Linked DNA regions of Homo sapiens: region 1 is linked to region 2. The links come from fine-mapping of genetic effects on gene expression. A gene starts in region 2. The other region holds a variant in brackets. All regions are shown on one strand. Distances are from middle to middle. Region 1 overlaps C10orf95-AS1 (C10orf95 antisense RNA 1). Region 2 holds the start of C10orf95-AS1 (C10orf95 antisense RNA 1).

Region 1 (2,904 bases), 8.2 kb before region 2:
CCAGCTACTCAGGAGGCTGAGGGAGGAGAACTGCTTGATCCAGGGAATCGGAATTTGCAGTGAGCCAAGATTGCACCACTGCACTCCAGCCTAGCGACAGAGTGAGACTCTGGCTAAAAAAAAAAAAAAAAGAAAAACAGAAAAAAGAAAAAAAGAAAAGACCTTTGGTCTCTCACGTTGCACTTAATGCCCCACAGTTACACTCTGAGGCCCCTCAACCCTCTGATTATATAGACAACGTAGCCAGTTACCTTTTATGTCAGCATCAGGGCAGGGCCTTGTGATTCTGTCTGATTTCTCTTTGTGGTTGCCAGTCACAGAGCTAACTGGGAGGGGAAATGCAATGAACTAGAGGCCATATCACCTCCCTAACTCATTGAGCCATACCGGAGTCCCTGGACCATGGGACAGATAGATTGTGCACTCTCTGTCTTTGAAATTCTCTCCTCCCTTTACTTCCCACCTCTCTGATCTAGTTTCTGCCATGTTCTCTTCCTACCTAATAATTCCTCCTCAGTCCCCTTCACTGCGGCACTTTCTCCCAGGGCCTCTAAAGGAAAAGGGAGGGTGTCCCAAGTTTCCATCTTGAATACTCATATACTCACTCAAACTTTTAATCCATGCCAGGCCACAGGCTGTGAGGTAAAGGGGACTTCAAAAACAAGATTGCTGGCCAGGTGCGGTGGCTCACGCCTGTAATCCCAGAACTTTGGGAGGCCGAGGTGGGCGGATCACCTGAGGTAAGGAGTTTGAAACCAGTCTGGCCAATATGGTGAAACCCCATCTCTACTAAAAAACACACAAAAAATTAGCCAGGCCCGGTGATGGATGCCTGTAATCCCAGCTACTTAGGAGGCTGAGGCAGGAGAATCGCTTGAACCCGGGAGGCGGAGGTTGCAGTGAGCCAAGATCGCGCCACTGCACTCCAGCCTGTTGACAGAGCAAGACTCTGTCTCAAAAAATAAAAAAAACAAGATAGCTACCTGCAAGAGGCGTTGAGTGGGGTCCAAACAAGCTGGCAGCCAAGATGTCAATAGTGTGATAGGGACCAGATGGAGACAAGCCCAGGGTGGCAGCTGTTACGGTAATTTCACCTAGTACCTTTTCCTTCATGACTACTTCCACACCTCCCATGTCCAACCTGAAGAGAATATCCAGAATGGCCCATCCGAATTCACCATTCCTTAAACTTCCAATCTCCCTCCAGCATTTTCTACCTCCAGGACTGCCTTAACTGTCCATTGAGGTGGCCAAGGCGGAAACATGTGCATCCACCCTCCATCCTACGCACTTC[A/G]TCAAAACCACCATCTTGGATCAAGTCCAGGTGAATCCTACTCCCATCTGTCTTTTCCATCCCTTGCTCCTGTTTGGTTCTCAGCTTTCATAAGCTAACACGAGAACCTCCTCCATGACTAGCTTCCACCCCCACGCTCTCTAATCTGTCCTCCATTTTGCCCTCAAGTGAGTTTCCGATCGCAAGCTTCCCTGAGCAAAAGCTTCTCAGGTTGCTATATACTGAAAATTTTCATGGCCAGATGCAGTGGCTCACATCTGTAATCCTAGCACCTTGGGAGTCTGAGGCATGAGGATCGCTTGAGCCCAGGAGGTGGAGACCAGCCTGGGCAACATAGTGAGACTCCATCTCTATAAAAAATTTCAAAAAATAAAAAAATCAGGCCGGGTGCAGTGGCTCACAACTGTAATCCCAGCACTTTAGGAGGCCAAGGTGGACGGATCACAAGGTCAGGATATCGAGACCATCCTGGCCAACATGGTGAAATCCCGTCTCTACTAAAATACAAAAAATTAGCCGAGCACGGTGGCACACGCCTATAGTCCCAGCAACTCGGGAGGCTGAGGCAGGGGAATCGCTTGAACCCGGGGGGTTGCAGTGAGCCGAGATCGCGCCACTGCACTCCAGCCTGGGCAACAGAGTGAGACTCTGTCTCAAAAAGTAGTAATAAAATAAAAAATTTTTAAAAATTATGTGGAATGTGGTGAGGCACACCTGTAGTTCCAACTACTCAGGAGGCTAAGGTGGGAGGATTGCTTGAGCCCAGCTATGACCACACCACTGCTCTCCAGCCTGGGTGAAAGAGACTCGTCTAAAAAAAAATTTTTTTTCATAATTCATAACAAAGTGCTGGCGGGGGGGGGGACGGTTAGGAAATATCCTGGGGTGTATCATTGGTGGAAGCAATAGACCATTTAAACTAGCTTAAATAAAGAAGGAATTTACTGGCCTGTGTAAGTTAAGTCCAGGACCCTTTCTGATTTCTGTCCTGGGAAAAGCAGAAAATCCCCTCCACCCAACAAGAAAATAAAGTCCTAGGCTTGACTTGCATTGGCCCATATCATGTCAAGGGCTAGCCCAAGTCAATCACTATGGCCAGAGGGATGGCTGTGCTGAAAGGCTTAGCCCTAAATCACCCAAACCTAAGGATACAGTAGATTCAACTCCACCAGAACTACTTTCCTGAGAATAGATAAGGTGTGGGACTTCAAAATACTGGGGACTGGCACTGGAATCAGGGTGAACAAATACTGAGAAACTCACAGCTTGGCCATTATTTTTCTCATTTTGCCTGAAAATTTCCTTCCCAGGCTCCACTTGAGCTTCGTCTTGCTTGCTCCCCACTCTCCACCCAGAAGAGATGGAAAACCTGGCCAGTGCCATGGGTCCACTACTGAACTCCAGGCTGGGGTGTGGTCAGTCCATGGATAGCCGTGAATACTCCCAGGTGCTGGGATTTTAGGACAGGGACGAAGTTATAAACAGGAGCAGGGAGGTGTATTAGTTTCCTACTGATGTTGTAACAAATCACCACAAACTTGGTGGCTGAAAACAAGACAAGTTTATTTTCTTACAGTCCTGGAAGTCAGAAATCTGAAATGGCTCACTGA
Region 2 (2,904 bases):
TTCCGCAGCCGGCCCGGGAGCCTGCATGCGGGCGAGTGGGCGGCCCCACGGGAATACCACCGCTTCTACGGCCCCGCCGCGCCACCCGAGGCCGCGCCGCCCTGGTGGGCCTGCCCTCCGGCCTACGCCACGACCCTGCGCCGGCCCTGCGCCGCCGCCGGCATCTCGGGACTGTCGCTGCAGGCGCCCGCGGCGGTGGCCGAGAGCTGGGCGCCGTGGCCGGAGGGCGGGAGCCTGCAAACCGAGCTGCGCTGGGGCCGCGTGGAGCGCGCGCGGGGCCCCCCTCTGCAGCTACCGGACTTCGTGCGCCGGGAGCTGCGGCGCGCGTACGGCACCTACCCCCGCGCCGACGTGCGCGTCACCCAGCGCCGCGGCCAGTTCCTGCTGCAGGCGACGCCGCGCGTGCTCGAGCCCGACCACCGCGTGGAGTGGCGCGTGCGGCGCCGGCCCGACAGCGGCGACAGCAGCCCAGCCCGGGAAGCCGCGGAGCGCGGCCGCCCCAGGAAGAGCAAGGGCCTGAGCTGAAGCCGCCGCAAGGCCTAGGGGCGGGCCCGCGTGCACGCGCTTGGCTCTTTCCTGTGTGTGCCGCCGCCGACAGGCAGAAGTGAGCCCTCACCTGTGCGCGGGAGGCGGACGCGCTGCTCACCTGTCTTTTTGGCTTCTCCCATGACTGCCGGCCAGTTTCCTGCACTTGTTTCTCTCGCTTTATTGCTGGACGGTGGGAGAAGGGCAAGTGCAAGACGGAATCGAGGGCACCTCTGGGTGTTCTGTACCTCTTTTCTTCTTGCACCTTGGGAAGTGGAGGACGTGGGATGGAAGAAGGGCCTGGACCTCCCTCCTTCCTCCTCCCCACCTTCTCCTAAGGAGCTTGCCCTGCAGTAAGCCCCAACTTTCCCTTCCTCTTTTCCCTCTATCAGAGTCGTCGCCCACCCCCCTTTCCCACCGCTCCCCTACCCCCGCCTTCCTGCCAAGCCGAGGGCGACGGTGATCCCCAGCTTAGTAAGAAAAGTAAATAGGCCGGGCGCGGTAGCTCACGCCTGGAATCCCAGCACTGTGGGAGGCCGAGGCGGGCGGATCGCTTGAGCCCAGGAGACCAGGTTGGAGACCAGCCTAGGCAACATGGCGAAACCCTGTCTCTACAAAAAAAAAAAAAAAAAAAAATAGCCGGGTGTGCTGATACACTACTGTAGTCCCACCTACTCGGGAGGCGGAGATGGGAGGATCACCTGAGCCCGAGAGGGCGGGGCTGCAAGGAGCCGCGAACGCACCACTGCACTCCAGCCTGGGTGACTGAAACCCTGTCTCAAAAACAAAAACAAACAAAAAAAAAAACAATAAATAAATGAGCGAAGTCAAGTATACACTGCGAGATCATTGTTATGTTTTGGGGTGGTGTTTCTCCATCTGTTTATCTGTTTAATGGGAGTCTTACCGCCCACCCTGGGGTACAGGAAGGTAGGGTGGAGGGGCGTGAAGTTGAACTGGCCCTCTGGAGAAAGCATGTGTCTGATCGCTGGGCCCAGCTGCCCTCTTCACCATCTCCCTCCAAGTGTGCAGGCCAGCACCTTCTAACTCTCCTTGGTCCTTTGGCCCACCACCCTCCGAGATGCTGAGGGCATAAGCTCTATTTTTGAAGTGTGGAAGGCTTCACTAGGAGAGGGATGTCTGAGACCTGAGTTTAGGGCTGGCTCTGACATTTTCTACCTGTGTAACTTAAGGCTTTCTGACTCTCAGTTTCTTCATCAGTAAAAGAGGCGTAAAAGTAACCCAGCCTAATTGGAAGTTAAGATGAATGTCTCGGCCCGGCCTAATTGGAAGTTAAGATGAATGTCTCCGCCCGGCGCGGTGGCTCATGCCTGTAATCCCAGCACTTTGGGAGGCCAAGGTGGGCGGATCACGAGGTCAGGAGATCCAGACCATCCTGGATAACACGGTGAAACCCCGTCTCTACTAAAAATACAAAGAATTAGCCGGGCGAGGTGGTGGGCGCCTGTAGTCCCAGCTACTCGGGAGGCTGAGGCAGGAGAATGGCGTGAACCCGGGAGGCGGAGTTTGCAGTGAGCCGAGATGGCCCCACTGCACTCCAGCCTGGGCGACAGAGCGAGACTCCGTCTCAAAAAAAAAAAAAAAAAAAAAAGATGAATGTATCTTCTTGTCTCCCAATTCTTGCTAATAATCGTTAATTCTTAATAGGCTGAGGTTTGCAATATTCTAGGAGTTTTCTGGAATGTTAGGCCACATAGCCAATTTTAACTAGGATCTAGCCAGATTTGAGGCCCAGCTGTAGAAATTTCTTTTACTGAACTTCCATTTGTAACTGACCAATAGTTACCTGGGTATACACAGGTGAGTTATTGAAGCTGTAGGCCAGCTGATTGGGCACTGCTGTATTTGTGAGCTTCTTGGAGAAGTTGTCTCAAACCTCAGCCCTTGGAAAAGGTGTTTCTCCTGATCAGTGGTTTGCTTTTGTCTTTTAAGCGCTACGAATCTCATTACTGATCATATTTTTCTTTTGGTCCTGGTTTCCAAGGAGCTCAGAGCCAAATTTGCTTTGTGTCTTTTTTTTTTTTTTTTTTTGAAACAGAGTCTCACTCTGTTGTCCAGGCTGCAGTGTAGTGGCATGATCTCAGCTCACTGCAGCTGCAACCTCCACCTCCTGGTTCAAGCGCTTCTCCTGCCTCAGCCTTCCAAGTAGCTGGGATTATAGGTGTGTGCCACTACGCCCAGCTAATTTTTGTATTTTTAGTAGAGATGGGGTTTTCCCATGATGGCCAGGCTGGTGTCAAACTCCTGGCCTCAAGTGATCTGCCCGCCTTGGCCTCATTAAGTGCTGGGATCACAGGCATGGCCACCGTGCCCGGCCTGCTTAGTGTCTTTTATATAAAACCTGCATCCTGAACTCTG

Evidence for each region. PIP is the estimated chance that this variant, and not a neighbour inherited with it, causes the effect.
Region 1: its variant is fine-mapped to the expression of C10orf95-AS1 in caudate (GTEx, PIP above 0.99). The same link has a PIP of 0.9 or more in hypothalamus.

The regions. Positions count from the first base shown.
Region 1 is chr10:102,456,226-102,459,129 of GRCh38, reverse strand. It overlaps C10orf95-AS1 (C10orf95 antisense RNA 1), which reads right to left. Exons shown (of 3, transcript NR_038938.1): 3 at 2,837-2,904. Among named protein-coding and RNA genes, the nearest start is that of SLC68A1, 3.7 kb to the left of the region's middle. RefSeq lists enhancers at 1,806-2,394, 2,395-2,904. The variant A/G (reference allele first, on the strand shown) is at 1,295.
Region 2 is chr10:102,448,073-102,450,976 of GRCh38, reverse strand. C10orf95-AS1 (C10orf95 antisense RNA 1) reads right to left here and starts at 1,160. Exons shown (of 3, transcript NR_038938.1): 1 at 955-1,160; 2 at 647-790. It overlaps C10orf95 (chromosome 10 open reading frame 95), which reads left to right. Exons shown (of 2, transcript NM_001363580.1): 2 at 1-1,140. The coding sequence ends at 525. RefSeq lists silencers at 1-479, 520-599.